Linked DNA regions of Homo sapiens: regions 1, 2, 3 and 4 are each linked to region 5. A link means that fine-mapping ties the variant in region 5 to the plasma level of a protein whose gene starts in the linked region. Region 5 holds a variant in brackets. A gene starts in each other region. All regions are shown on their forward strands.

Region 1 (6,202 bases), not on the chromosome of region 5:
TAACAGCCCCGCCCCACCCCCAGGGCCCAGCAGGTGGGACCTGGGGCCACATGACCCCTCCCCCACCAGCCCCTGCCCTGCCCAGCTCACCCAGTGCGAGTAGATCCGTGCAGTTGTCGCCTCTGCTCATGGCTGCAGATGTGAGAGTCCACAAGCACACTGCTCTGAGCCGAGGGTCAGCCTGGTTCATGGCCTGACGGTTTCCACAGCACTTCTTACTCCCATCCCTCCTCAGGCCCGTACCCCGCAGCTCAGCATCCCCAATACTGGTGGTGGCAAAGTCTCTGGTTTCCGGGGAGGAAGGGGGAGGGGAGGGATGAAAAAAAGAACAAAGACCCCGCCCTGTGCCTGCACCTGCGCCACTCCTGCAGCTCCTGAGCTTCCCCCACCCTCGCTGCCCAGGCCCTTTGCCCCCCTTGAGAAGAGAAGCAGGCCTGTGGGTAATGTGCCACGGGCAGTTGAGTCCCTGAGGACTCTGAGGGCGGGGGGTGGGGGCAGAAGTGGTGTGAAGCAGGACTAACAAGGACAGGAACACCCCTTCTGCTCCAGGATGCCCACCTTCCTCCCTGACTCTGGTCCCAGAAGAAAGATGTATTCCTCAATGAGTATGGTATAAAGTGGAAGGGTCGGGGGAGCCTCCTGGTACCTCTGATCCCATCACACCCTAAGGCTGATCTGAGAGGATATGTGTTTAGATGATGCTTGTTATTGTTTCATTGGGGGCATTATAATTTGGGGGACACCCCCAAACCTCCCCTTTCAACCCACTTCATCCAAACTGTCTGTAAGAACTGTCACTCTCAATAATTAATTGCATTTTAAAACTCTTTGCTGTAGGACTGTCCTGGGAAACTGAGCCCTATCTTGCACATGTTCACTTCAGCGGGTGTAGTACCTGCCATACCTAGAGCTAACTCCATCACGTGCAAGGCTATTGATGTAGGAAGAGGGATTTTAAGTTGCAAATATAAACCTGAGACCAGAAGTCAGAGATGTGTTTTGTCTAGCCCATACAACATTTTTTAAAAGTTTAAAATCAGTGCAGTGGCATGCCAACAATAGGGATGGCAGAAGTCCTGCCCCTTGAGTTGCAGGCAATAAGGGGGTGCATTGTCTGTAGAGAATTTAAAAAATAAAAATCAGTCCTCTTATTATCACCATGTTCCAGAAATTCTGAAAAAAAAAATCAGTGATAAAATTATCCTCCCTGAAAAATATTTTATGGATCTAAGTTTTATATTTTTTTTGAGACAGGGTCTTACTTTGTCTCCCAGGTTGGAGTGCAGTAACACAATCTCAGCTCACTGCAGCCTTGACGATCTCCCGGGCTCAAGTGATCCTCCCATCTCAGCCACCTAAGCAGCTAGGACTACAGGCATGTGCCACCACACCCAGCTAATCTAGTTCATTTTTTGTAGAGATAGGTCTCCCTGTGTTGCCAGGCTGGTCTCAACTCCTGACCTCAAGCAACCTGCCCACCTCGGTCTCCCAAAGTGCTGGAATTACAGGCATGAGCCACTGCGCCCAGCCCAGATCTAACTTTTAAATTGCTGTAGTGGACCAGGTGCAGTGGCTCATTCCTGTAATACCAGCACTTTGGAGGCCAAGGCAGCAGGAGGATTGCTTGAGGCCAGGAGTTCAAAACCAGTCTGAGCAATATAGTGAGACCCTCCATCTCTACCAAAAAACAAACAAAAACAGTAGACAGGCCTGATGACACAAGCGTGTAGTCCTAGCTACTTGGGAGACTGAGGTGGGAGGATCACTTGAGCCCAGGAGTTGGAGGCTGCAGGGAGCTATGATTATGCCACTGCACTCCAGCCTGGGCGACAGACGGAGAGACCCTGTCTCTACAGTAGATGCACAAATACCATTGTCTTACAACTGCCTACAGTATTCAGTATGGTAACATGCTGTAAGCATTGGGGCCTAGGAGCACCAGGCTATACCATGTAGCCTAGATGGGTAATAGGCTACACCATCTAGGTTTGTGAAAATACACTCTATGATGTTTGCACAATGACAAAATTGCCTAGTGACTCATTTCTCAGAACATATCCCTGTTGTTAAGCAATGCATGGCTGTTTTTATGCTGACATGATTATATTTACAAAGTTCAAGGAAAGAAAATATTCACTGAGTTTATTTCTTGGCCCTTATTATTCATTTTATAATTGCCATTGAGAATAATTTTGTCATATAAAGAATGTTTAAATTTGTTTTAATTTTATTTATTTATTTATCTGAGATGGAGTCTCCCTCTGTCGCTCAGACCAGACCGCAGTGGCACAATCTCGGCTCACTTGCCCAGGCTGGAGAGAAGTGGCGTGCCTGGCCATAAAGCATTTTTTTAAATGATCCACTTGAAAAATAAAACTTTGTTCCAGGCATGGTGGCTCATGCCTGCAATTCCAGCACGTTGGGAGGGTGAGGCAAGAGGATCGCTTGAGCCCAGGAGTTCAAGAACAGCTTGGGCAACATGGCAAAACCCCGTCTTTACCAAAAATACAAAAAATTAGCCAGGTGTGATGGTGCACGCCTGTGGTCCCAGCTACTCGAGAGGCTGAGGTGGGAGGATTGCTTGAGCCTAGGAGGTAGAGGTTTCAGTGAGCCAAGATCAAGCCTCTGCACTCCAGCCTGGGCAACAGAGTGAGACCCTGCCCCCCACCCCCAAAAAAAGAAAGAAAACAAGAAAAATTTGGGTCTGGGCATGGTGGCTCACGCCTGTAATCCCAGCACTTTGGGATGCTGAGGTGGGTGGATCACCTGAGGTCAGGAGTTTGAGAGCAGCCTGGTCAACATGGTGAAACCTCGTCTCTACTAAAAATACAAAAATTAGCCGGGCATGGTGGCAGGTACCTGTAATCCCAGCTACTCTGGAGGCTGAGGCACAAGAATTGCTTAAACCCAGGAGGTGGAGGCTGCAGTGAGCCAAGATCACTCCACTGCACTGCAGCCTGGGCGACAGAGCAAGACTCCATCTCAAAAAAAAAAAAAAAAAGAAAGAAAGAAAAATTTGGGCCAGGTGTGATGGCTCACACCTGTAATCACAGCACTTTGAGAGGCTGAGGTGGGAGGATAGCTTGGGCCCAAGAGTTTGAGACCAGCCTAACCAACATAGTGAGATTCCCATCTCTGCAAAAAATTAAAAAATTAGCGAGGCATGGGGGCATGTGTGCCTGTAGTCACAGCTACTTAAGAGGCTGAAGTGGGAAGATTGCTTGAGCCTGGGAGATAGAGGCAGCAGTAAGCCATGATTGTGCCACTGCACCACTCCAGCCTGGGCAACAGAGTGAGAGCTTGTCTCAAAAAAAAAAAAAAAAAAAGACAGAAAAGAAAGAAAAATGTTTTTTAAATGATCCGGAACAGGCAAGGTGGCTCACACTTGTAATCCCAGTACTTTGGGAGGCTGAGGCAGGCAGATTCCTTGAGGCCAGAAGTTCAAGACCAGCCTGGGCAATACCCTGGTCTCTACAAAAAACAAACAAACAAACAAACAAAAAACAACAACAAAAAAACACACAAATTAGCTGGGCATGGTGGTGTGCACCTGCAGTCCCAGGTACTCAGGAGGCTGATCCAAGAAATTTGGGGCTGCAGTGAGCCATGGTCTCACCACTGCACTCCTGACTGGGCAGCAGAGGGAGACCCTGTCTCTCTCTCTCTCTCTCACACACACACACACACACACACACACACACACACACACACAAAGACCACTTGGTGTCAAATATGCTAAGTATGCCACTGATTCCTTGTCAACAGTTAAAAATTGGGAGATTTCAAATTTTTAAAATTCTAATTTGTTGATTCCTTCAAAAAAAGATCTGGCAATAGTGCCCTGAGTTCTCTAAAGGCAATAATCAGTTGGGGACCACTTATCATTATTATATCTGGCCTGAACCCCTTATTTACACCGACTGTGCCAACTGGCTTAGATTCAAGATTTCTATTACCCTGCTTTGCGTACCCAGGCTGTCACTGGGTCATCAGCTAGACCACTGGTCCCCAGCCGTTTTGGCACCAGGGACAGGTTTTGTGGGAGACAATTTTTCCATGCACAGGAGTATGGGAGGAGGGGATGGTTTTGGGATAAAACTGTTCCACCTCAGATCATCAGGTATTGTGGTTTTTTTGTTCTGTTTTGTTTTTTTGACAGGGTCTCGCTCTGTCACCCAGGCTGGAGTGCAGTGGTGCAATCTTGGCTCACTGCAACCTCGCCTCCTGGGTTCAAGCAATTCTTATGCCTCAGCCTCCCAAGTAGCTAGGATTACAGGCATGCGCCACCATGCGCAGCTAATTTTTGTATTTTTATTAGAGACTTTTTTTTTTTTTTAACCATATTGTCCAGGCTGGTCTTGAACTCCTGGCCTCAAGAGATCCACCCACCTTGGCTTCCCAAAGTGCTGGGATTACAGGCATCAGCCACTGCACCTGGCCTAGATTTTCATAAGGAGCCCACAACATCACGTGCATGCACAATTCACAATAGGGTTCGTGGCCCTATGAGAATCTAACACTGCACTGATCTGACAGGAGACAGAGCTCAGGCGGTAATGCCAGGATGGAGAGTGGCTGTATATACAGATGAAGCTTCCCTCGCTACTCCGCCGCTCACCCTTGCTCCTCCGCTGCTCACCTCCTGCTGTGCGGCCCAGTTCCTAACAGGCCATGGACCAATAGTGTTGGGGACCCTTGAACTACACTATGATAACTCCCCTTGGTGAGGGTTTCTCCCTGTCCTGCCCTTCCTCCTCCTTTCAGGAAAAACAAGAAGACACACCCATATTTCATTTATTTATTTATTTATTTATTTATTTATTTATTTATTTAGAGATGGAGTCTTGCTCTGACACTGAGGCTGGAGTGCAGTGGCGCGATCTCTGTTCACTGCAACCTCCGCCTCCCAGGTTGAAGCTATTCTTATGCCTCGGCCTCCTGAATAGCTGGGATTACAGGTGCTGGCCACCACACCTGGTTAATTTTTGTTTTTGTTTTGTTTTTCTGAGGCGGTGTCTCACTCGTTTGCCCAGGCTGGAGTGCAGTGGCACGATTTCGGCTTACTGCAACCTCCACCTCCCAGGTTCCCGTGATTCTCCTGTCTCAGCCTCCCAAATAGCTGGGACTGCAGGCGCCCGCCACCACACCCGGCTAATTTTTCTATTTTTAATAGAGACGAGATTTAGCCATGTTGGCCAGGCTGGTCTCAAACTCTTGACCTCAGGTGATCCTCCTGCCTCGGCCTCCCAAAGTGCTGGGATTAGAGGCATAAGCCACCGATCTTGGCTTCATTCATTTATTTAACACACATGATGTACTGATTGCCTGTTTGTATGCCAGGCTCTGGAGATAAAAATGTGATGAATGGAAATGGTTTCATGTCAGGGAGCTCTTGATCTAACTAGACAGATGACCCAGTGTATCCCAATTAAGAGACCATGGAAGGCTCTGTGGAACAGAAGGAATACCTGCCTGCCTGGTGAAGTCATGGAAGACAAGGATGGGGAAAGGCTGTTCGACAGAAGGTATAGAGACAGGCAAAAAACTGGTGAAATCACCACCCTGCCTCTTACCTGATTAGTAGCATACTTAACCTTGCTGAATTGCAGTTGCCTCATTCTTTGAAAGAGCTTAACTATATTACCCTTTTGGGTCATTTTAACCATTCATTAATTTCATTCAACAACGATTCATTGAGTGCCTGCTATCGCCAGGCGCCACGTGCTGTGCTAGGCTCTGGGAGTAAAATGGTAAAGAAAAAAGAGAGGTGGCTCCTGCCCTTGTGGAATTTAGGACCAGCCTAGCTCAAGGGTCTCCAACACCCGGCCACAGGCCAGCACCAGCCTGTGGCCTGTTAGGCTCCGGGCCACATAGCAGGATGTGGGCAGTGGGGCCAGCAATCATTACCGCCTGAGCTCCGCCTCCTGTCAGATGAGCACGGCATTAGATTCTCATAGGAGCGCGAACCATATTGTGAACTGTGCATGGGAGGGATCTAGGTTGCACGCTCCTCGTGAGAATCTAATGCTTGACGATCTGAAGTGGAACAGTTTCATCCGGAAACCATCCCTCCACCCCGCTTCGTCCATGGAAAAATTGTCTTCCACGAAACCGGTCCCTGATGCCAAAAAGGTTGGGGACTGCTTGTCTAGTGGTATTGAAGAAAGTGAAATAGCGGCACTAAAGAATAAATTAGAAGTTG
Region 2 (5,953 bases), not on the chromosome of region 5:
AAATGGTCCCATAATTATTACAGAAGTTGGATTCATTGTTTAAAATCTATAGGGGGACAGGCAGGAAGCTACAAAAACAAGGAAGGCCAGGCCAGATGCGGTGGCTCATGCCTGTAATCCCAGCACTTTGTGAGGCCGAGGCAGGCAGATCACCTGAGGTCAGGAGTTCAAGACCAGACTGGCCAACATGGCGAAACACCGTCTCTACTAAAAATACAAAACTTAGCTGGACGTGGTGGTGCATGCCTGCAGTCCCAGCTACTCGGGAGGCTGAGGCAGGAGAATCGCTTGCACCCAGGAGGCAGAGGTTGCAGTAAGCCAAGACTGTACCACTGCACTCCAGCCTGGGCAACAGAGTGAGACTCTGTCTCAAAACAACAACAAAACAAAACAAAACAAAACAAAAAAAACAAAGAAGAGAAAAGAAAAGAAACAAAACAAAAAACAGAAAATAAAAAACAAGGAAGGCCTAGATGGTTTTACAGATGATCTCCAGCAAACATGGAAGTAACTGATCATCTCCATCTTAGACTAACTGTTCCAGTGAACAGCTGAAAAAGGAAATACTGCCTCAACTCACTTTACGATGTCTTGATACCAAAACCAGACGAGGATAATAATACGAGGCTAAAAAAAAAAAAAAAAACCACCCAATCCAGAATTGTATATGAAAAAAATACATCACGCAAAGTTGAGTTTAGTCCAGAAAATACAAGAGTGGTTTAACATTTAAAAATGAATTAATGTAATTTGCCACATTAACAGATTAGAGGAGGAAAACCCTGTGATCATATTAATGCATTCAGAAAAAGCATTTTATAAAAATTCAACATATAGCACACTAGGAATGGGAGGGAGCTTTCTAAATCTGATAAACATATCTACCGAATGCTCCCTGCAAACATCATACTTAATAATGGAACACTGAGAATGCCTCCTATGCTTTTTTTTTTTTTTTTTTTTTTTTTTTGAGACAGAGTTTCGCTTTTGTTGCCCAGGCTGGAGTGCAATGGCTCGATCTTGGCTCACCGCAACCTCGGCCTCCTGGGTTCAAGCGAGTCTCCTGCCTCAGCCTCCCAAGTAGCTGGGATTACAAGCATGGGCCACCATGCTCGGCTAATTTTTTTGTATTTTTAGTAGAGACAGAGTTTCTCCATGTTGGTCAGGCTGGTCTCGAACTCCTGACCTCAGGTGATCCACCCACCTCGGCCTCCCAAAGTGCTGGGATTACAGGCGTGAGCCACCATGCCCAGCGCCTCCTATGCTTTCATTCAAAGGAAGTAAAAGCAAGAGAAAGCAAGTCCAGGGAAGTAAAGCAAGGAAACGAAATCAGCCGGGCACAGTGGCTCACGCCTGTAATCCTAGCACTTTGGGAGGCCAAGGCAGGTGGATCAGGAGTTCCAGATCAGCCTGGCCAACATGGTGAAACCCTGTGTCTGGTAAAGATACAAAAATTAGTCAGGCGTGGTGGTGGGTGCCTGTAGTCCCAGCTTCTTGGGAGGCTGAGGCAGGAGAACTGCTTGAACCAGGGAGGCGGAGGTTGCAGTGAGCCAAGATTGTGCCACTATACTCCAGCCTGGGTGACAGAGCCAGACTCTGCCTCAAAAAAAGAAATCAAAGCTAAAAAGACTGGAATAGAAGAAACAAAATGGTCATTACTTGCAGATGATAGGATTGTGTACGCAGAAAATCAAAAAGAATCCACAAAGAGAACCCAAACATAATTATTAGACTTAATATGAGAGTTTACAAGGTTACTTGATACATAGAAATCCATTGTTTTTCTATGTACCAGCAACACACAGTCTGAATGGGAATTCAAAAGAAGGTAGCCAGGCGCAGTGGCTCACAGGCTCACGGGCCAGCACTTTGGGAAGCCAAGGCGGGAGGGCCGCTTGAGTCCAGGAGTTTGAGACCAGCCTGGGCAACATAGCGAGACCCTGTCTCTACAAAAAAATTACAAAATTAGCCAGGCACTGTGGCGCCTGCCTGTAGTCCCAGGTGTTTGGGAGGCTAAGGTGGGAGGATCACTTGAGCCCAGGAGGCTTCAGTGAGCCATGATTGCGCCAATGCACCCCAGCCTGCACGACAGAGCGAGACCCCGTCTCAAAAAAAGAAATCAGATTGATAAATGCTATGATATTAAAATTAAGACTTTCTGTTTATCACATGATACATCAGCAAACTGAGAAGACAAGTAACAGGTAGGCCGAAGACATACACCCCAGGGATTGGTGTGGAAAATACAGAACACCTGCAAAGTGTAAGCCAAGACATGCACGGGCATTTGACAGAAGAAATGAAAAGTGCTGCAATATGGCCGGTGGTCAAGGAATGCCGATTCAAAACCCAGCAGGGCACCATTTCACACCCACTGTATGCGCAGAAACTCTCAAGTCTGCTCTCTGGTGTACGTGAAGACGTGGTGCAGCAGTGGCAGTGGGGGTGTCCGCTGGGATGCCAGCATGGAGAGCTACGTCTTCAGCCCAGCAAACGTGAAGCCCACGTCCCACTGACCCAACGAGTCCCCTTCCAGCATTGAGAAGCCTGGCACACAGCAAGGAGACGACACCAGATCAGTTGACGCTGCCTTCCCATCCCTTGGTGAGGGGACCCGGCCATTGCAGGATAAATCCAGCACGACTCCCCTGACATAAGATGTTCCGGTTCCCCAAACCAGCCTAGATCCTTTCTGGTTACACCAGCTTCAGACCAGGGGCTGCCATAGCCACGCCTCTTATCTGCTCAGAAAGCGTAGAAGGTGCATATGCAGGCCATATACACACATATTTATGAAAATGGTGCTGCCTGTGGATGGATTTATTTTCTTTTTTCTTTCTTTCTTTTCTTTTTTTTTTAAAGACAGAGTCTTGCACTGTCACCCAGGCTAGAGTGCAATGGCACCATCACGGCTCACTGCAGGCACCAACTCCCAGGCTCAGGCGATCCTCCCACTTCAGCCTCCCAAGTAGCTGGGACTACAGGCTCGCACCACCATGCCTGGCTAATTTTTAAATTTTTTTATAGAGATGGGGGTCTCACTATGTTGCCCATGCTGGTCTAGAACTCCTGGGCCCAAGTGATCCTGCTGCCTTAGGCTCCCAAAGTGCTGGGATTACAGGCGGGAGCCACGACGCCCAGCCTGATTTATTTTCTTCTGTGGAAAGGAAGGAGAAACCCATTCCCCATGCCAGATTGCAGGCGTCTGTCTCATCCGGGGCCAGCAAGGACATGTGTGTGTGTGTTGGGGTAGGCATGGGGGGAAGGACAGGGAGAGGGAGAGAGGCCAGCTGGCTCCCCCAAGCCTCCCCTCCTGGAGCTTCTAAATCCCTCCCTGGCTCCTTCAAGGCTGCCTGGCCTTCCTGTTGGGGAGAGACCCCTCGCCGGCTGCTCACTCGCTTTTTGGTGGTCCTTCCCACGGGCCTGCCTGGTCTGCCTCCACATCCTCAGCGGCTGCAGGTGAGAAGCTGTGGATCTGGGGCCCAGTGGTCCAGAGCGTGGCCCGTGCCAGAATGCCCAGGTTCAAATCCCATCTCTGTGGAATGCACTCTGAAGAAACGACGTCAGGTCATGGCCCTGGGCAAGTTACCCACCTCTGTGCCCCATTTCTCTCCATGCAGGTTGGAAAGAATGACACAGCTGCTCAGGGAAGCACCCATACCCCGAGTCTGCTGGGCCTTTGAGCTCCAGGGCCAACACCTGGCCCTATACCCTGGCCGCCCCCAGGGCTCCAGCCACCTGAGCCAAGCTTCTCACCCCCAGGCCTCCCCAGCCCCATCACCATTTCCTCCTCCCTCATGGGCCCCTCAGTCTTACCGTCCTCCCACTTCCGCCAGCCCCTCTGTGGATGGCCCTGCCACAGGGGGAACAGTGCCCCAGCAGAAAAGCCCCAGGGTCGCCTGGATTCTCCTGCCTTCGCCTCCTGCCCTGGGTCCAACGCACAGTCTTCAGAATGCTGCCTCCCCAGAGCGCCTCTAGAACGCGCCCGCCTCTCTCCATGCCCATGACCACCACTGGACCAGGCCTCCCCACATTCTCTGCCCCAGTGCCACCAGCTTGCAGTTGCCCATGGCGAGACAAGTTCAAGTTCTCAAGCCTGGCCACAAAGACCCCACCTGATTTGCTGACCTCCGCCACACCCTGGGAGACGGCCCTTGACCAACCTTGTGTTCCAGTCGGTGGGAAACACTGGTTTTTCCTCAACGCCACGTGGGCATGTCACGTCCAGGCCTGGCCTGGGGTAGGCCTCAGCTCCATCTCCTGCCCAACGCCTGCCAAGGTTCATGGTTCAAGGTCATGTAGCCTGACGGTTAAGTGAAGGGGCCCTGTGATTGACTCAGCCTTGCCACATACTAGCTGTGTGACTTTATTCAAGTTTCCTAACCTCCTGTGCCTCAGTTTCCCAACCTGTGTTTGTTTCTGGATGGTGCCAGTGCCAAGCCCAAGCCTGGCATCCAGTAGGTGCTTCGTGCCAGGTTATGGAATGCCCACCCAATAGGAGGGCGCTGCCGTCTCTCACCTGCCAGGTGCCCACGGTCAGTACTCCATCATGCCCGCTGCGGCCAGCAGAGGGCAGCAACATCCTGCCCTGTGCCATTGGGCAAAGGGGCGGGCGGAGAGAGGCTGGGCTGCCTGGCCGGGCTTGTTGGGATGAGTCGGACTGGGCACGATTGCATTGTGGGGAGGGAGGCTGGGGCTCTGTGAGACGTGCTCCTGGCACCGCCAGCTGCTACTTGGCCCTCGCCGGTGGCCCACCAGGTAGGCAAGAGCTGGGGCAGGCTTGGGCTTGGGCTTGGGGTGCAGGGGCTACCAGCCTCAGGGCAAGGCATCAGGGTCTCAGGGCCAACTGGCTGGGGTCAGGCAAGAGCGCTCGGGTGTCGGCCCAGCCTGACGACGGCACTAGGTGTCTGGGAGCACGGTGTCCCCCAAGTGGTAGCCCTGGGGTTAGGAGGTGGGGAACCATGTTTCTTCCCCGAAATGGGAAAGCCAACGCCAGCCTCGGGCAGGGTACAGGGTAGAGAGGCTGCCCGCCTGGCTCCCCACCCCCACAGCCACCCAACTGGCCCAGCCAGGTGACAGCAGCCCACTGCCACCTTGCCCTGGAGCCTACTGCTGCCGTGCTGTGGGGGAGGCAGAGACCCCATCCCCAGTGCACCTGCTCCTGTGCCACTGGCCAGGGTGGCCTGTGAGGGTGACAGGGGGTCTAGCTGCTAGGTGCCCCTCCCTTCCCCATCCCCTGCATGGATGGCATCTAGGCCAGCAGGACGGTGCTTCAGAGGGTGGGGTGGACAGCCCCGGCCTGTGGACCCTCTGCCTCAGCCCATCTCAAGCAGCCTCCTCCCGTGGTCCTGCTCGCTGCCACCATGCTGTACCTGGCACCACTTCACCAGTCCCCAGGGGCAGGGCTGGGCTGGGGGTGTGGAGGAAGATCTTTTGGACAAAGGCAGGCATTGAGGGCCAGGACTGGCACTTCACCCAGGCCCCAAGGCTACCAGCCGGCATTTGCAGGGGCTCCAAGGTCCACCCCGTGCCCTTCACAGGGACCCGGGGAGCCAGGGAGGGGCATGCTTAGTGACACAGGGGTTGCAGGGCCAGAGGGGGAGGGCTGGCTGGAGGAAACCCCGGCCCTTTGTCCCCGGATCCCGGGGGTGGCTCCCTGAGGGTGGGAAGTGGCAAGGAGCCCCCTGTCCAGAACAGCCCAGTGGGGGTGACAGCACTAGCGAGTGGGGCCCTGGCCTGGCCTCTGGACAGAGGGAACATTGTTGTGGTGGAGGCAGGGCTGCCTTGGCCTGGCCACTATTGACAAAGCTGCCAGCTGTGAGGGAGCCCGGTCGCTAGGCCCTGGGCGCCACCCCCACCGCCGCCCCTCCTTCCCCAGGCCAGCTCGAATGGGGCTGAGCCTCGACTGTCTCCCTCCCACTCAGGACAATGCCCCCCCGCAGCCATCTCATGC
Region 3 (6,254 bases), not on the chromosome of region 5:
CTGCTCACACAGCACCCCGGAATCTGCTTCCCATGACATGGGGTACTAAGGCTTGAAGGAAGCATGCTTATTTAATGGTAAGTATAAATTATTTCTTTTTCTGAACATGCAGTTTAATATGAGGCAAAGTGCAAGGCCTCTCTCTGCCCAAGGGAGTTCTCCAGCTGGGACTGAATGCATATCCAGGGATGACGCTGTTTGTGGATTGATTACTGCTGCCGTGGTGGTTTCCTTGACTGTGTAGATTGCTGCAGCTACACGTGCAGGCAGGAAACCAAATGGAGACCACCACCCTCCAGTGTAAACTCTAACATCACACCAATTTTTCTTTTTTGACTCTCTGAATGCATGAATAGAAAAATAATAAAGCAACAGAATCCACTTCAAATTGAAAGACCTGGCACCTCTACCACACATTAGGAGGTATGGAAGCATGGGCAAGTTATTTAACAATAATTATGATCATTTCTGTTGTGGGTGCTGTTAAGCACTTTGCATACTTTAATCCTTAAGCTTAGATTTCTTCATGTATAAATTGAGGATAATAATGCAACTACTTCATTTGCAAGTTGAGGCAGCAGGGTCAAAAAGAACACAGTTTCAACACAGACAGACGTGGGTTAAATGCCAGCTCCAATTTCTACTATTTGATCTCACTGAGCTCCCATTTTCTCATCTCTAAAGTAGAGATGAAGCCACTTACCTCAAAGGACTGTGGTGGGGAATTGAGCAAGACAGTGTTAAATACCAGTTGGTGTCTGTATCGCTAGACAGTGCACAATAAATGTTTATACCTTCTCTCCTATTATACACATGAACTGCTTCTGTTAATATTCATCAGCAGCAATTCAATGTCCATAGCAGCAATTCAATGTCCATAGAGTCCAAAGATGCATTTCCTTTCATAACAATGAAAATTTTTCCCAGAACAAGCTTAATATGCCAGATACTGGCCCAACAGCTCTATGTCTATGAACTCATTTAATTCTCACTACTGTTCAGTGGGGTAGGTACTACTACTGTCATCCCCATTGTACAGATGAAGACACTGAGGCACAGACTTTGGGTTACTTGCCTAGATTCAAACAGATGGTACCAGAGCTGGCAGCCTGGCTCCATAGCCTGTCCTCCTAACCAGGCTGCAATAGGGCTTAATGGGTCAATCTGTTTGAGATTCCATGCTTGGATGTAATCTCTTCTAGAGATAAGCACTGGATGCTCTCACAAACCGCAATGTGTTGATGTGACTAACTTTTCAACTTCTGAAATAACATTTTGTGTATTTTCTTAGTATTCCTAAAAAAAAACCCTTTACACTTTAAATAAGGTGCCTATAACTAGTTCATCTTGTTCTGCATGCTGAAATACCATAAATAAATGCACTTCTCTCTTCAAAGATTATGTAAATAAATCTTACATTAAAACATACCCCTGAGCTTTGGTTTAAACAATAATTTCAAGTCCAAATTAAACATTTATGTATGTGTATATATATTTAGCAGGAAAGTCTTAATATGACCTATTTTGTTAAACTAATGACATCTATACCCAATACTCCAAATATTCCTCTTATTTATAATATTCGCTGTGTAACAGTCACACAGCAGTACTGCATGGTACTTCAAAGTACTATTCCTTTTACAAGTTTAACCAACTCAGGTATTAAACATCAATGATGATAATCCATAGCTCTGCTTAAAAGGAATCTCTCGGGAACAGCTGAGAAAGAAAGGTTAAAGATTTCTATCCTTCAAAGTAGGGCACTGCAGCTACCTATAAATCATGCTCTTTGTTTATTAAGATAATTAGGCCCATCAGTACACTTAACTTTTAGACTCAACAATTGTCTGGCATGAACAATTTCCACTTTTTCTAAAACAAAGGGGATGTGTTCAAAAAGCGGTCCTCTGCATGCTCTCTGCACAATGCATGCTATTTTAAAACATGATTTATGGGTCTAATTCCTGGAGCTGCCTTGAAAAATATAGTGGGTTGTTCCTCCCATGCTCCCTATTAGGAGAAGACACTCCAATTTGAAGAGTGCACTCTGTTTCAGACTTCAGGCCGCTATATCATGTCAGCATTTTCAGTAAATACTGTTCAATTGGACTTTAAACAAATGGAATGGAGGGCCACAGCTGCAGCCACTGCAGAGATAAAGTTATCCAGCCGGGAGGCTTACATAAGAGGTGCAGGACAATCAGGGTGAAATCCAAGTGTCATTATCTGAATCCTATTTCTTGAGACTTGCCTACATTCTTAAAGTGTATGAATTCACACGCCCAGAGCTCGTTTTATTTGCCTTAGGGCATAAAACACCGGGTCGACATATAAGTTGTTTTTTCCCTAAAGGACTAGGCTCCAATTATGAAAAGGTTGGCAACTTCTGCCTAGGGGAAGAGTAAAGCGGGATGCGCGGGAAGCCTGCAGGCCTGAAAGAAATGGCTCGCCCAAAGATCCATCGCAGTGCTGGCCACACTCCCCAGAGGAATTAGGATGGAGGTGACAAGACCCTGCCCAGCCCCTTCACCCCAACGTAAACACAGAGTCAAGGAGCTTGGAATGAATAATTAGCACGCAGCAGTCGAAATGCCCTAGGAGTACCTGTCCTCTCCCAGCATATTTCCAACTGGCACATTCGTGAGATGCTGAGGTCAGCCAGCCCTGGACTCCAGACCTTCCAGCTGCCTTGTCCCCTTCTTGGCACCCCGCACTCCCTCCTCGAGCTGGAACTCTGTTAACAAGAGGTGCCACCCTCGGCTTCCCACAAGAAGATAAAAACGAACCTCTCCTTCCCACGGCTCCCTCCAACTTCAGAAACTACAGTCAACTTACTGGGACTCAGGAGGCAGGGAGTCTTCCTGGCGGACGGCGCTCGGAGGCAGCCTCTGCAAACTCCGGCGCGCAGCGCCGCCGCCCCGGCACAGCCCGGCAGCAGCGGCAAGTGCAGGACCAGGCGCCGCCGCTCTGCACCAGTCGCCTTGGCTCAGCTGTGCCGGGCGCCGGGCATTCGCCAGGGCACACGACTCAGCGAGGCGGCGGCTGGGACTGAGGCTACTGCACCCGGCCGCGCGGACCCGAGCGCTGCAGCTGCCTCCAGCCCCGGAGCGCGGCGCTCCGAGCCCCTGGTGGGTGTCTCTGGCTCCAAGGGAATCACGGCTCAATTAGGGACCTGCCAGGAGAAAAACCGATGCGCTGCCGCAGGCAGAGCCGCCAGCCCGCCCCCAGTCGGCTGGTCACATCGCGGGCGCGCAGACGGACAAGCGAGCGGGAGGGTACCGCAGCCAGCACTCGCCGCCGCGCCGCGGAGAATGACAGGCGCCGAGGCGGAGCAGCCGCGCGGGGAGCGGGGCGCGAGTGCGCATGATCCTGGCCGCAGCGGCACGTCACGGGGGAGGAGGGGCGGGCCGCGGGGCGGGAGGGGGCGAGCCGGGCGGGGCCGGGCTGGGGGTGCACACGGGTGAGGACCGGCGCGGGGCCTGGCTTGCTCGCGGGAGGATGCAGGAAGTCTTCCCTGCCCTGATTTTATGAACCCAAAGCTCTGTGGTTGAACTTGTCCCAGGAGCCCATTGTCCTTTAAACAGCACCGTTTAAGCGGTCCTTAAGGTCCCTGGGGAGCCCACAAAAGCCAATTTAATTCAGGTTACAGCTTAACCGTAAAGGGTTGCCATTTGGGGGACAGTGATCTTCTATTGTGGCTGTGCATTAAAATAACTTGGGGAGCTTGTAAGAACCCTTTGCCCCGGACGCATCCCAGAACAAGTACAGGACAATGTCTGGGTGGGGCCCACCCAGGTATCAGTAGGTATCTAAAGATACCAAGGTACAGCAGTGCTTCTCAAACCCTCAGTGTGTGACAGAATCTCCTGCGGATTGTGATGAGATGCAAGATTCAGATTCAGTAGGCCTGGGATAATGAGGGAGACATCCTTTCTAACAAGCTCTCGGAGGATGCCAATACTGGAGGTCCAGACCCCCATCCTTGCTACTTAACGTGTGATCTAGAGCCTGGAGCAGAGCTTCTGAAACAGTTGGCCTGTCTGACAGTCACCCGAGGGGCTTATAAAAAACGCAGAACAAATGCCCAGGCCGTACCCCCAGTGATAGTGGTTCTGGCTCAGCCCCTGGCAAAGGTGGGCTTCTAGAATTCCATTTGGCATCAACACTCTAAATAAATCTGATAGGGGTTTTGTTTGGGCCAAACTTCAAGTTTACACTAGCAACCTGGAATTGGGAATAAACTTTTGCACTTACAAGGAGACAAACCAAGTCTAGAACTCAGGACATCTGACTTTGAGTCAGGGATTCTAAACCAACGGGTGCTTTATCTGACTAGTCCCAATTTTCTAAAATTATGATGCATTACTTAGCAAGAAAAAACATATAAATGGCATTAAATATACACACACACACTCTATTGAACACTCGTTACACATATCATTAATGGGAGCTTAAAGGTGGCTGGGGAAGAAGGCTCATCAGGAGAGGGTAAGGAAGACAGTGATGGAGTAAGGGATGTTGTTAGTGTGTCGCAGAGGGAAGGGTATGTGGGAGGAAACAGTTTAGACTCAGCCTACAGCTTGGAAAAGCCCATTGGGGAAGCGGACCCAGGAACCAGACTTGGCCTCTTGCTTCAGAGCATGGTATGAAACTCAGGTGTTTAAGAACTTATGGAGTATAACATTTCACATACGTTACCTCACTGAAATTTCACAGTGGTCTCTTAAGTTGAATAATAATATAAAAAAGTATCCCCATTTTATATATTAAAGAAGACATCCTGGACATGAGTTGACTAATGGTGGAACTTGAATAAAAGTAGGGATCTCCGTGTTGGACTTGGCTTCTACAACTCTGGAGAAGAGGACAATTTAGACCTTATAAAGCAAATGGTTTCTGTGTTTACTAGTCACATCTTTTACAGGCTGTGCCTAAATTTGGAGTTAGGAAGGCTTTCATTCTTGTGGGGAGGAAATACATTTTGTGTCTTCCAGTTTTGCTACACTTGTTAGGATACACTTAGAACAAAATGTTCTAAGAGCAACCCGGTCCTAGGACATTGCAGTTCCACAGTGCAGGCTTCATTGAGGAGTTTGAAGGGCAATATTCACGTTATCTGGTGACAAGTGTAATTACCATCCTCATTTTACCCAGGCTCAGAAGCTAAGTGATTTAGACAAATTCACGAATGCAGGCAGGAGCCAATCTCTAGCCTCTGTCCTTTTCCTCTGCTCTCTTTTCACCAAGTAACATGCTGAGGATTGTTTTTCATTTCCAAATTTTTCATATCAGGATTTGCCATCAGTAAATTGGAACTCAAATGTATTTCAAAGCCACTCCTAGATAGAGAACCAAAAGTGTCAGGATCAATTCTTGTGCTTGTGGTAGATGCTATGGGCTATACTCTCGGTCTGAGTAATGTTTTGGAAGCAAGTATGTGATAGTTATATACAGTCTTCTAATCCAGAGGTTTGACTGGGAATGCTACACTGCCAACTGTGGTCTACCTGCCTTTATCTTTACTTCTTATCTAACTCTTCCATTACAGCCATTCTTCGGTGTGATTATGAAATTAATTCCTAAGAAAAAAGAATTCTTTGAAGGAGCTGGTACATCACAGGTTGTAAAACTTACTTCAGTTTTTAATAAGAAATATATATATATTTTAAATATGAAGGTAGCAGAATAGTCATGTTGGGACCTTTAGAAGAACCCAAAGTTGTCATTGTTTTCTTAGGTGCCCGACATTTCAATCAAAATATTTACATAATTCATTTGTATATTGATTTCAAGAGATCCAAGATTTAATTAAATAAAAAGTTACTATTAATTGGTGTGTCCTACTGCTATTGAATTTTGAACCATTGTTATTGGCATTAAATACATGAAATATATAATATTGTCTTGATACTATATTGACTGTGCTTTAATATTGACTGTGTCTTGATATTGACTGTGTCTGTATTTAGAATTTATTTCACATCAGCTGCTATTGATTGTCTGGCAGAAATCGCAGCTACATCTTTTTCTCTGAGGTCTGTATTCCTTATGGGTCAGCAAGGCCTACTCTTTGGCTGAGAATTCCTTCCTTCAATGCCTCTAAAAGTCCTAGTAGTGAGATATTCAATTATATAGACACTAATGACTCCACTGAAACTATTCTTCCCTCATGCAGAAACTGTACCTAGGATAGATTTTTATTAAAGTCTTTCTGCTAAAAATCACAGGCTTACCAACTGAGCTGGAAAGCTTAG
Region 4 (6,110 bases), not on the chromosome of region 5:
CTGAGCTGAGGGTCCTGGGGGAAGGTGTACCCCACCCTGAACAGAATGGTGCCCTCACCTGGGCCCCAGCCAGCCAGGGTCACAGCGCTGACAGTGGCCAGTATCTGGCTCACAGGCCTCCCCATGTCGGCAGTGAGGGCACTGCTGTTCGCAGCTCTCGCCAAAGGTGCCAGGCAGGCAGGGCTGCTGGCACTGGGTCCCGTTCCAGCCCGGCTCGCAGGACTCACAGCTGCCTGTGTCTGGAGAGCACGGCTCATTGTGTTTGCAGCGGCCACAGCTGGGAAGAGAAGGGCTTCGTGGGAACAGTGGGGGTGGATGGATGGAGCGCCCACCCCCTCCTACCCCTGTACTCCACGCAGGCCTTCGGGGGCCCTGGAGAGTGTTCGGGTCCCACCTGGGTCAGGCAGGTTTGAGCCTCAGTTTCCCCACGTTGTACAATGAGGACAAATGAGGGCTCTTACAGGATCCCATCCCTTTCCTTCCAGGCATCTGCTCTGTGACCGTCTTTCCCTGGGTCCCAGGACCATCAGGAGCCAGCAGCCCAGCCAGGGCAGGCGAGTCACCACCAAGCTCTGAGTCCCATTTGCGAGGTCTGCCAGGCCTTCCCTCCTGCTCTTTTCACTTTTCCTTTTTCCACACTGAGCCGTCCCCAGGTCTGGCATGAATGGGACTCAGTAGTGTCTTCTACCCCATCACACGAAATGCAAAAAATGTAAAGTGTTTTCACCCAGGGGTCCTCAAACCCTGGGCCATGGACTGGTACTAGTCCGTGGCATGTTAGGAACTGGGCGACAGCGTAGAGATGACCAGCAGGGGAGCCTGACCGCCTGAGCTCCGCTGCCAGCCAGATCAGTGGTGGCCTCAGATTCTCATAGGAGCGCCAGTCCTATTGTGAACTGCGCACGGGAGGGTCCAGGTTCCATGCTCTTTACGAGGATCTAATGCCTGATGATCTGTCACTGTCTCCCATCACCCCCAGATGGGACCCTCGAGCTGCGGGAAAGCAAGCTCAGGGCTCCCACTGATTCTATATTATGGTGAGTCATATTATTATTTCATTATAGATTACAGTGTAATAATAGAAAAATTGTCTGCCATGAAACCAGTCCCTGGTGCCAAAAGGTTGGAGACCACTGTTGTCACCAATATAATTTCACATTTGCCATATCTTAATTTCCCATTGATGCCTAATAGTTACCTGAAGTTTCTCCCTCAGATGCTTAACTAGCTGGGATCATATACTTGGGTCAGACCCATTAGTAGGGGAGAAGAAGGGCAGTTTATAAAAGCCATTTAGCTGATCCTGACCAGCATTTTTATTTCTTATTTTATTTTATTATTATTTTCTTCAAGACTGAGTCTCACTCTGTCGCCCAGGCTGGCGTGCAGTGGCGCGATCTTGGCTCACTGCAACCTCCGCCTCCCGGGTTCAAGTGATTCTCCTGCCTCAGCCTCCCAAGTAGCTGGGATTACAGGCGCCCAACACCATGCCCGGCTAATTTTTGTATTTTTAGTAGAGACGAGGTTTCACCATGTTAGCCAGGCTGGTCTCGAACTCCTGACCTCAGGTGATCCGCCCGCCTCGGCCTCTCAAAGTGCTGGGATTACAGGCGTGAGCCACCGCGCCCAGCCAGGGATGAAATTTCTTACTGTGAGTGCAGCCAGTCAAAGTTTGAAAGCCACTGAGCCCTAAAGGGACCTTGCTCAGGACCCTTGGTCACTCGATCCACTTATTTATTATTTTTTTTGTAAGAAACCATTTTTTTAATTTTCTTTTTTTAAATATATTTATATATATTTTTTTATTATTATACTTTAAGTTTTAGGGTACATGTGCACATTGTGCAGGTTAGTTACATACGTATACATGTGCCATGTTGGTGTGCTGCACCCACTAGCTCGTCATCTAGCATTAAGTATATCTGCCAATGCTATCCCTCCCCCCTCCCCCCACCCCACAACAGTCCCCAGAGTGTGATATTCCCCTTCCTGTGTCCATGTGATTCCATTGTTCAACTCCCACCTATGAGTGAGAATATGCGGTGTTTGGTTTTTTGTTCTCGCGATAGTTTACTGAGAATGATGATTTCCAATTTCTTCCATGTCCCTACAAAGGACATGAACTCATCATTTTTTATGGCTGCATAGTATTCCATGGTGTATATGTGCCACATTTTCTTAACCCAGTCTATCATTGTTGGACTCGATCCACTTATTACCTACATATGGCTTGCTAGCAGTGCTAGTATATTTTGCACAGCAGTAATCAATGAAATGAGCAGGTGAGGCTGGACCTGGGGCAACAAAGCGTTTTTAAAAGTTTTTGTTTTGTTTTGTTTGAGACGGAGTCTTGCTCTCTGGCCCAGGCTGGAGTGCAGTGGTGCGACCTCGGCTCACTGCAACCTCCGCCTCCAGGGCTCAAGCGATTCTCCTGTCTCAGCCTACCGAATACCTGGGACTACAGGCGCAGCCCGGCTAATTTTTGTGTTTTTAGTAGAGACGAGGTTTCAGCATGTTGGCCAGGATGGTCTCGAACTCCTGACCTCAGGTGATGCACCCGCCTCAGCCTCCCAAAGTGCTGGGATTACAGGTGTGAGCCACCCCACCTATCCGACTTTTCCCCTTTCTCGTTCCTCTGCTTTGTATGTTTTTTGAGAGGAGCACCGCGAAGCCCTGACCCCTCCTCCCGGCGCCCCGCCGCGGCCACCTGTCTCCGCTCCGCCCCGCCCGCTCACAGGTCTCCGCGCAGCCTCGCTCACCTGTGTCCGCCTCCGCCCCCTCCCCCGACCGCTCACCTGTGCCCGCCCCGCCCCCACCCTGCCCGCTCACCAGTTTCCACCCCGCCCCCTCCCCGCCCACCGGTGTCCGCCCCGCCCACCGGTGCCCGCCCCGCCCACCGGTGTCCGCCCCGCCCACCGGTGTCCGCCCCGCCCACCTGTCTTCGCCCCGCCCCCTGTCTCCGCCCCGCCCCCCTGTCTCCGCCCCGCCCCGCCTGCTCACTTGTGTCCGCCCCCGCCCCGCCAGCCCACCTGTCCCCGCCCCGCCCGCTCACCTGTGTGCGCACTGCACCCCGTGGCTGCCTGCCGGGCAGGGCAGCTCGCAGCGCGCTCCGCGGAAGCCGGGCGGGCAGGTGCACTCGCCGGAGGCGGCGCTGCAGCGGCCCCGCACACACTCGCACTGCTGCTGGCATTCGGGACCCCACCAGCCCGGCCGGCAGGCGCAGCGGCCGGAGTCCTGCTCGCACGGGGAGCCGTGGCAGTTGCAGCGGAAGCTGCAGCGGCGCCCCCACCAGCCCGGCTTGCACACGCAGGCGCCCGTGGCCTGCTCGCAGCGCGCCGCCGCGGTGTTGCACTGGCACGGGCGGCGGCACGTGGACGACCACCAGCCGGGTTCGCAGTGGCACACGCCGGTCGCGGGGTCGCAGCGCCCGTGGGGGCCGCAGGCGCACGGGAACTCGCAGCGGGCTCCCCAGCGGTCGGCCTGGCACTGGCACGCGCCCGTGGCTGGCTCGCACTGGCCGTGCGGGTGGCAGGGGCAGCTCTCACGGCAGTCGGGGCCCCAGTACTGGCCCGGGCAGCCTGCGGGGGTGGGGACGGGAGGGGTCAGCGGGCTCAGGGCCGCGCGCAGACCCTTACCCTGCGTCCCCTTCCTCAAGGAAAAGGGGCGCTGGGCCCATCCTCCAAGAGCCGGGGACAGACCCTCAGAACATCCGGCAGCCTGTCCTGGGCAACACTCACTTCCTGCTCCGCTCTGACCTACAGAAAACCCTTAGCCATTAGTGGGAGGCTCAGCCTGCCACTTCACATTCCAGAACACACTCAGAGATCCTGAGTGGGCAGGGGACTTGCCCAGAGCGTGGCACCGAGGTTGGTGGGCCTTCCTCCATGCCTGCTCCTCCCTGCCGAGATGGATCTCTGCTGGGCTGGAGGAGAGCTGGCTTTCTCCTGATCTCAGGCCTGGATACTGCCCGCCAGGGTGTCGGGAGAAGCCACCTTTCCCCTAGTGATTCCTTGATTCCTGATGCCCACCCTCTGGCTCTCCTGCTTCCCAACCCCTTTCCCTTCCCTCTCTTTCTGCCAGAGAGGGCAGAGAGCCCAGCCAGGGGCCCCCTTCCATCCACTGCCCATGTATAAGGTATATGTGGGAAAGGCAAGTAATACACTCATTTTACAATGAAGGGGAATCACAGGTTTTCTGAGAAGTGGAAGAGGAAGATGCTCAGGTGGGCAGTGCTTTGTGGATGTGGGTAAAAACCCGGTGACTCAGGTCATCTCCCGGGAGTGTGTGTCACTTCCTGTCTCTGGACCGCAATTCCTCAGTGAAGCTGGGGGGGATTCTGGCCCTGCTGTCCTGAGGCTGCATGGCTACCTGCCTCGCCTGCTCCCACACCACTGCCCCCGTACCCAGCTCTGCCCAGCAACTTCATCTGGCCCTTGAGACTCACGGGAGCTGCAGTGGGCCCCAAAGAATCCAGGCTTGCATCGACAGAGGCCCGGCTTCACACACACCTCGTCTTTCTGGCAGGCGTCCGGCCCCTCACAGATGGCTGAAAGACACCCCACCCAGGTTGGAAAGACGGGAGCAGGACCAGGGGACACCCCTGCCCTCTCACTGGCTCCAGGGGCCATGCCTCCTCAAGAGGTGCCCCTTCAGGCCTGGGGGTGCGTCACAGGAGAAACCCTGACTCCTGGTATCAGGAGGGGCAGGCCCCATGGGGTAGGAAGGAAGGGTTGTCACTGGGCTACGGCCTCCCTTCTCCTTGGCTGAGGGTCTGTCCTGGCTACTCACGGATGGTGCATTCTTGATCCTTCTGCCTCCAGCCTGCGCAGCACTGCAGCTCAGCAGAGGGGCTGTGGGGCAAAAAGGGGTCAGCCGGACATGGTGGGGGGTGCAGCCTGGCCCTGAGGAAGGTGGATCACTGTCTCTGGCTGCAGTGGGGGAGGCTGCCTTAGCCCCCTGGGGAGGCCTAATGGATCTTTACAGCTAGGGTCCCCAGCCCCTCCCCTCTCCTTCCCTGACCCTTCCACCATCTGCCCTGGCTGGCCACTACCTGCCAGACCGCCATCAGCAGTCCCTTCCTTTCAGCCTAAGCCCCCTTCCTAGTCTCCTCCTTCCCCTAACGGCCTCAACACCGGTTCAGCCACCCGCATCAGACTCCCACGAGACCCACCTGCTGGCCACACGCATCAGACTCCCACGAGACCCACCTGCTGGCCACACAGACGTGCTGCCCTTTGGGGTCCAGCTCGGACCCCTGAGTCCCCCGAGTCCAGAGCAGCAGCAGCGGGAGCAGCAGCCCCAGCCCCATGGCAGGCAGCTCGGTGGGAGCGCTCGGGTTCGTCTGGCCCCCACAGCTCCCAACCCCCTCCCTGCTTCCTCTCAGGGCTTTTCCTGAGGAAACCAGGCCGGAGGGGCGGGCTGCCACGAGGCACCTCCCTGAGAGGGAGGGGGTGGCTGGAAAGACTGACACTCAAAAAAAGAAAGGGAAAGAAAGGCAATGGCAGGGCTGACTGGCCTGGGCCTGGAAGGGCCAGAAGAATGAAGTTGCAGGTCCCTGGGTGCCGGGGCCAGGGAAGGGGGTGGACTGAGGCTGGGAGCCACGGCTTTCCATCAGGCCACACTCCCAAAGCAAGGCCTGAGCTGCAAGAAGCCACCCCACCCAGTGACTGAGCAAGGAGACCAGCGAGGACCCCTCAGCCTGCCTCTGCTCCTGGCAGGGTTGGGAGGTGGCACAGACATGGACAGACAGGCGAGGAACAGTTTCTGTGTATTACGGGCAGTTCTTTATTACATGAGCTCAGGCCGTCTGCACAAAGCCCTGGGAGCTAGGCAGTCAGCTCTCATTTCATGGATGGGGAAACTGAGACTCAGAGAGGCACTCTTATATCTGGCCCCAGAGGCTCGGTACAGAGACGTAGAGAGGGAGGCGGGCTGAGACCCCGTCCTGCCCTGATGCAGGCCAGGATTGGGGCAGACCCCTGGCGAGGGCTGTGAAGGCGGGAGCCCTGTCCTCATTTGAGGCCACACATCCTTCCACAGCCAGACCCCTAAGTCAGGCCTCTGGGGCGGCTGAGGCCCCCAGACAAAGGTGTTCGTGGAGGGCAGAACAG
Region 5 (6,254 bases):
ACTCAGGAGGCTGAGGTGGGAGGACTGCCTGAGCCCACAAGTTCAAGGCCAGAGCGGATACCATATCAAGATTCTGTTTCTAAAAATAATTTGAGGCCGGGTGCGGTGGCTCACACCTGTAATCCCAGCACTTTGGAAGCCAAGGCAGGCGGATCACTTGAGGTCAGGAGTTGGTGACCAGCCTGGCCAATATGGTGAAACCCCTTCTCTACTGAAAATACAAACATTAGCTAGGCGTGGTGGTGTGCGCCTGTAATCCCAGCTACTCAGGAGGCTGAGGCAGGAGAATCGTTTGAACCCAGGAGGCAGAGGTTGCAATGGGCTGAGACTGCACCACTGCACTCAGCCTGGGAGACAGAGCGAGACTCCATCTCAAAAATATATATACATAAAATAATAATTTGAGATACCCATAACATCAAGCGATATGAAATTAACTGAGTTCTATAGGTGCTTAAGTCATAAATACTGCTAATACTACTAGTTGTTTGTTGCCCATATTTTTAAATGGCAAAAAATGCTAAATTTCACTTGAAGGTTAGTGTAAATAAAGATGTAAATTTCTCTTCATCCAAGGTCATCAATGCCCTGAATTCTCTCCACAAATTCTTTGAGAATCCACAGATCCAGGTGAAGAATCCTGCCTCTTTGTACTGACAAGCAGGAAGAAAGAGCCTCTGCCATGAATAAAGCAAATAGGTGAGGGACTGGAAGGAGTGGTCATCAAGGCTGCAGAAATAGGTTTAAGGAAAAAAAAAAAAAAAAAAGTCTGCTGAACTCTTCTGAGGCTCCAGCAAGAGCTGGAAACCCTACATTCCTAACTAATCAGCCCCCCAGTGGGACTTTCTCCAGCCACACCCAGCAGGCTGGATTAGGAGTAGACAGAGTTTAAGATCTTAGAGGAACAGAGAACACTGTGAGGGGCAAGAAGAGAATAGAAGTGTAAAGTTTATAGCTGTGGTCAGAGTAGATCTTGAAAAGCATTCTGGAAGAGAAGCAGTTCCTTCCGAGTGATGACACAGTCATGAAAGCAGGATGCTACAACGCCGTGGAGGTGAAAGGGATGTATGGAACAGAACTTAGGAGGCTATGTTTCCTAAAGAATAGTGTTCTCCAAATGATCCATTTGAAAATAAATTATTCCAACACACACTACAGTTGTCCTTCAGCATCTATGGGGGATTGGTTCTAATACCCCCTAGGGATACCAAAATCCAGGGATGCTTAAGTCCCTGATACAAAGTGGTGTAGTATTTGCATACTCTCGCATACTTTAAACCTCTAGGTTACCTATAATACCTAATACAAAGTAAATGCTACGGAAATAGTTGTGGTACTGCTTAAGGAATAATGACAAGAAAAAAAGTCTGTACATGTTCAGTATAGATGCTTTTGATTTCCCATATAATTTTTTTTTTTCTTTTCAGACAGTTTTTTTTCTTTTCTTCTCACACTCTGTTGCGCAGGCTGGAGTGCAGTGACACAATCTCAGCTCATGGAAACCTCTACTTCTCAGGTTCAAGCAAATTGCTTGTCTCAACCTCTCGAGTAGCTGGGATTACACATGTGCACTACCATGGCCAGCTAATTTTTTGTACTTATAGTAGAGCTAGGGTTTTGCCATGTTGGCCAGGCTGGTCTTGAACTCCTGACCTCAGGTGATCCATCTGCCTCAGCCTCCCTAAGTGCTGGAATTACAGGTGTGACCCACAGCCCCAGCGTATTTCCCATATATTTTGGATCCATGGTTGGTTGAATTCACAGCTGTGTAACCCATGGATAGAGAGGGCTGACTGTATTTGCAAACTAACATTTGAAGACATCAGTGTCCCAGCCACAAAACTAAGAAATGAATGGTAATTACAATTTTAATCATTGTCTATGGTATCATGCCTATGTAAGAGAAAAAAAAACAGTTATTCCCTGGTTTAGGAGTATAAAATTGGGTCTAGTGAGTATAAAAATATTTTTTAAAATATAAAAACATAAAAATATAATAAATATAAATAAATTAAGTTTAAAAATATAAGTATTTCAGTGGTGGCTCACACTTGGGAAGCCAAGGCAGGTGGACTGCCTGAGCTCAGGAGTTCGAAACCAACCTGGGCAACACGGCAAAATCCTGTCTCTACCAAAAATATAAAAAATTAGCCAGGCATGGTGATGCGCACCTGTGGTCCCAGGTACTCGGGAGGCTGAGGTGGGAGAATCACTTGAGCCTGGGAGGAGGAGGTTGCGGTGAGCCAAGATCTGCATCACCACACTCCAACCTCAGTGATAGAGTGAGACCCCGTATATAAAAAATATATACATGTAAACTTTTCAAAAATCAATCAAAGGAATATATATATGTTGAACACCTGTTATCTGTAAGTCACTGTATATATACTAGACACCATGGTTGGGGGGGACGCATTTCCTTAATTCTATAAATTTGTTTTCTGAACTCCAGAAAAGTTTAATGCATTGGGAGAGAGAAAATATACCGGTAAAAAAGACACTACATACTGCTTCGTGAAGATGAGTGTTTGGTACATGATGGAGACCACTGGTTCTCCAACTGTACTTCATGACACCCTATGATGTCTTCAGGACACCCCAGAAGGCAAGGGAAAGTGGAGTAAGTAGGGAGCTAGGACATCACTAGCTCTTCTTCCAACCAAAGCCTTGTTTTAACTAAGAGTCAGCATGGGATCTCATCAGAGGGAAAAAAACTGACCTATTCTATACTAAAAAGAAAATGTTAAAGTCTGGGCATGGTGACTCACACCTGTAATCCCAGCACTTGGGGAGGCTGAGATGGGAGGATCAAGTGAGCCCAGGAGTTCAAGATCAGCCTGTGCAACACAGTGAGACATCTGTCTCTACAAAAACTAAACTAAAAAAAACAAACAAAAAAATTAGCCAGGTAGGGTGGTGCATGGGGAGGCTGAAATGGGAGAACAGCTTGAGCCCAGGAAGCAGTAAGCCATGATGGCGCCACTGCATTCTAGTAGGGGTGACAGAGAGAGACCCTTTCTCAACAAATAAATACATACAAACATAAATTAATTTAAAATGTAAAGTTTAACAGCCATTGTTACAGGCAATAAAAACAAACCACAATGAGCAGGGAAGGTCAGAGAAGACTCTAAAAAGGACAGATGTGGGCTTGGTTTTGAAAAAGTATCTAAAACTCTAGTTAGTAAGGTAGATTCTTCACGTTGGGATTAAATCCAGGAGTAAAAGAAGAAGGCACAGGGGGCCGCGGTGGCTCACGCCTGTAATCCCAGCAATTTGGGAGCCCAAGGCAGGTGGATCACAAGGTCAGGAGTTCGAGACCAGCCTGGGAAACACAGTGAAACCCATCTCTACTAAAAATACAAAAGTTAGCAGGGCATGGTGGCGCGCGCCTGTCGTCTCAGCTTCTCGGGAGGCTCAGGCAGGAGAATCACTGGAACCCGGGAGGC[A/G]GAGGTTGTGGTGAGCCAAGATCGCGCCACTGCACTCCAACCTGGGCAACAGAGTGAGACTCCAACTCAAAAACAAACAAAAAAAGAAGGCACAAAGTTGGTGATGTCTAACACACAGAACATGCCAGCTTAGTAGGTCAATAAGTAGATTAACATTGGGAAATAGGCCGGGCGCGGTGGCTCACGCCTGTAATCCCAGCACTTTGGGAGGCCGAGGTGGGCGGATCACGAGGTCAGGAGATCGAGACCATCCCGGCTAAAACGGTGAAACCCCGTCTCTACTAAAAATACAAAAAATTAGCCGGGCGTAGTGGCGGGCGCCTGTAGTCCCAGCTACTTGGGAGGCTGAGGCAGGAGAATGGCGTGAACCCAGGAGGCGGAGCTTGCAGTGAGCCGAGATCCCGCCACTGCACTCCAGCCTGGGCGACAGAGCGAGACTCCGTCTCAAAAAAAAAAAAAAAAACATTGGGAAATAATGAGAGATAAGGTTGAAAAAGAGAAGTTCCACTGGGAAGGGCCCTGTATAGCATCCCAACTTTATTCTGTAAACAACAGTGGCCACTGAAGATTTTGAGCAAGGGATGAGATGATCTAATAAAAGCAATGTCTAAGAATTTCTTTATGTCAATGCCCAAGATTGACTGAAAATGAGAAATCTGGAAGACAAGTTGTTTAGGAGATTATAACAATATTTGCCTTGGTGGAAGAAAACAAGGACCACACTTATTTTCTATTTTCACTGTTAAATCTTTTGGTACACACGTTTTGAACTTTTTACCATGTGTGCATATATAATTTTTAAAGTAAAGTTGTAAACAGAAAAAAAAAATCTACAGTGAGATACTACTTCTTACTCTCCCACTAGGATGGGTATAATCAAAGAGACAGACAATAACAAATGCTGGTGAGGATGTGAAAAACATAAGAAACCTCAGACACTGCTAGTAGGATTGTAAAATGATACAGCTACGTTGGAAACAGCTATGTAGGATTGTAAAATGATACAGCCACTATGCCCAGGAAATCAGCCTGTGCAACAGTGAGACCCCAACTCTATTTTCAAAAAATAATAAAAAGAAAACAAAACAGCCCAACAGTTATGTAAAAGGTTCAACATAGATTTAGCATACGAGCCAGCAATTATCTTGCAGGTATGTGTATGTATGTATGAGTATGCATACACACACACCCCCATGAGAATTGAAAACCTATGTCCACACGCAGTTTTTTTTTTTTTTTTTTTTTTTTGAGATGAAGTTTCACTCTGTCACCCAGGCTGGAGTGCAGTGGCGTGATCTCGGCTCACTGTAGCCTCGGCTTCCCAGCTTCAAGTGATTCTCTGCCTCAGCCTCCCTAGTAGCTGAGATTACAGGTGCACGCCACCACACCCAGCTCATTTTTGTATTTTTAGTAGAGACAGGGTTTCACCATGTTGGGCAGGCTGGTCTCGAACTCCCGGCCTCAAATGATCTGCCAGCCCCAGCCTCCCAAAGTGCTGGGATTACAGAGGCATGAGCCACCACACCCGGCCCACACAAAAACTTTAAAAGTCACTGTTCGCAGCAGGATTATGTATAAATCAAAAGGTGGAAACAATGAAAATGTCCACCAACTGATGAATAAACAAAATGTAGTGTACCTGTGTAACTGTATAATGGAATATTTGGCCATGAAAAAGAAAGAAGTACTAATACATGCTACAGCATGGAAGAAACATACTAAGTGAAACAAGCCTATCATAATATATATGGCCAGATGCGGTGGCTCATGGCTGCAATCCCAGCACTTTGGGAGTCCGAGGTGGGCAGATCACTTGAGGTCAGGAATTCGAGACCAGCCTGGCCAACATGGTGCAACCCCGTCTTTACTAAAAATATAAAATTAGTAGGTGTGGTGGCAGGCGCCTATAGTCCCAGCTACTCAAGAGGCTGAGGCAGGAGAATCGCTTCAACCTGGGAGGCAGAGGATGCAGTGAGCTGCAATCATGCCACTGCGCTCCAGCCTGGGCGACACAGTGAGACTCTGTTTCAAAAAAAAAAAAGAAAAAAAAAGGCTATATATTATATGATTCCATTAATACGCAATGTCCAGAATGGGCAAACCTATGAAGACAATAAATCAATAGTTGCCTGGAGCTGGGGAAAATTGAAACAAACAGAGAGGAACTGCTAAGGGGTTCAGAGTTTCTTTTCAGGGTGATGAAAATGTAAATTGATTGTAGTGATGGTTGCACAATGCTGTGAATATATTTTAAAAAATGGGCTGGGAGCAGAGGTTCATGCCTGTAATCCCAGCACTTTGGGAGGCTGGGGCAGGAGGATCATTTGAGGCCCAGAGTTTGAGACCAGCCTGGGCAACATAATGAGACCTCATCAAACAAAAAATAACAACAAAAATTAGCCAGGAGTGGTGATACACATCTGCAGTCCCAGCTTAATCAGGAGGCTAAGGTGAATCACCTGAACCCATGAGTTTGAGGTTATGGTGAGCTACGATGGCGCCACTGCACTCCAGCCTGGACAACAAAATGAGACCCTGTCTCAAAATAGAAGAAAAAAAAAAACCTAATTTTCTCCCTATCTCAAATGAATGATTAAATTTTCTAGCACTACGATAAAGTGAGATAAAATAGAAAAAAAATCCCTAAGAGAAAAATATATCCTATTTAAGTAATAAAAAGCAGTATTTATTTTCCTTACTAATACATTCTGTTTGTGAGAGGTACAAATTGGATTCTTCAGTTAAAATTCAAGGGAAAACATTTATAAGATAAAATACATCATCTTAGTTTGACTAAGCCCATTA

Which allele goes with the higher level. Alleles are on the strand shown, and positions count from the first base shown. The strength of an association depends on the size of the effect and on how common the allele is.
In carriers of allele A in region 5, the plasma level of the protein whose gene starts at base 268 in region 1 tends to be higher than with G alone (moderate association).
For the plasma level of the protein whose gene starts at base 4,703 in region 2, allele A in region 5 goes with a higher level than allele G (weak association).
As copies of A replace G in region 5, the plasma level of the protein whose gene starts at base 3,313 in region 3 goes up (weak association).
As copies of G replace A in region 5, the plasma level of the protein whose gene starts at base 5,343 in region 4 goes down (moderate association).

What was found. A credible set is the group of variants that fine-mapping cannot tell apart. PIP is the posterior inclusion probability: the model's chance that the variant is causal. Protein levels are from antibody-based Olink assays in UK Biobank. Linkage for the fine-mapping came from a reference panel and not from the study's own genotypes, which makes the PIPs less certain.
Region 1: SIT1 starts here. The variant in region 5 is the best candidate, but not a certain one, in a credible set for the plasma level of the SIT1 protein (UK Biobank, PIP 0.74).
Region 2: it holds the start of PLXNB3, and the variant in region 5 is the best candidate, but not a certain one, in a credible set for the plasma level of the PLXNB3 protein (UK Biobank, PIP 0.75).
Region 3: PAG1 starts here. The variant in region 5 is the best candidate, but not a certain one, in a credible set for the plasma level of the PAG1 protein (UK Biobank, PIP 0.79).
Region 4: SCARF1 starts here. The variant in region 5 is the best candidate, but not a certain one, in a credible set for the plasma level of the SCARF1 protein (UK Biobank, PIP 0.74).

The regions. Positions count from the first base shown.
Region 1 is chr9:35,650,664-35,656,865 of GRCh38, forward strand. SIT1 (signaling threshold regulating transmembrane adaptor 1) reads right to left here and starts at 268. Exons shown (of 5, transcript NM_014450.3): 1 at 91-268. The coding sequence starts at 190. RefSeq lists a silencer at 1-48.
Region 2 is chrX:153,759,547-153,765,499 of GRCh38, forward strand. It overlaps PLXNB3 (plexin B3), which reads left to right and starts at 4,703. Exons shown (of 36, transcript NM_005393.3): 1 at 4,703-4,758; 2 at 5,925-5,953. It overlaps PLXNB3-AS1 (PLXNB3 antisense RNA 1), which reads right to left. Exons shown (of 3, transcript NR_199696.1): 2 at 4,164-4,303.
Region 3 is chr8:81,108,756-81,115,009 of GRCh38, forward strand. It overlaps PAG1 (phosphoprotein membrane anchor with glycosphingolipid microdomains 1), which reads right to left and starts at 3,313. Exons shown (of 9, transcript NM_018440.4): 1 at 2,836-3,313. RefSeq lists an enhancer at 2,759-2,828 and a silencer at 3,319-3,448.
Region 4 is chr17:1,640,390-1,646,499 of GRCh38, forward strand. It overlaps SCARF1 (scavenger receptor class F member 1), which reads right to left and starts at 5,343. Exons shown (of 11, transcript NM_003693.4): 1 at 5,208-5,343; 2 at 4,789-4,850; 3 at 4,445-4,546; 4 at 3,053-3,578; 5 at 59-277. The coding sequence starts at 5,308. It overlaps RILP (Rab interacting lysosomal protein), which reads right to left. Exons shown (of 8, transcript NM_031430.3): 8 at 5,761-6,110. The coding sequence ends at 6,053.
Region 5 is chr12:111,532,105-111,538,358 of GRCh38, forward strand. The region is part of intron 5 of ATXN2 (ataxin 2); the gene reads right to left. Among named protein-coding and RNA genes, the nearest start is that of ATXN2, 64 kb to the right of the region's middle. The variant A/G (reference allele first, on the strand shown) is at 3,450.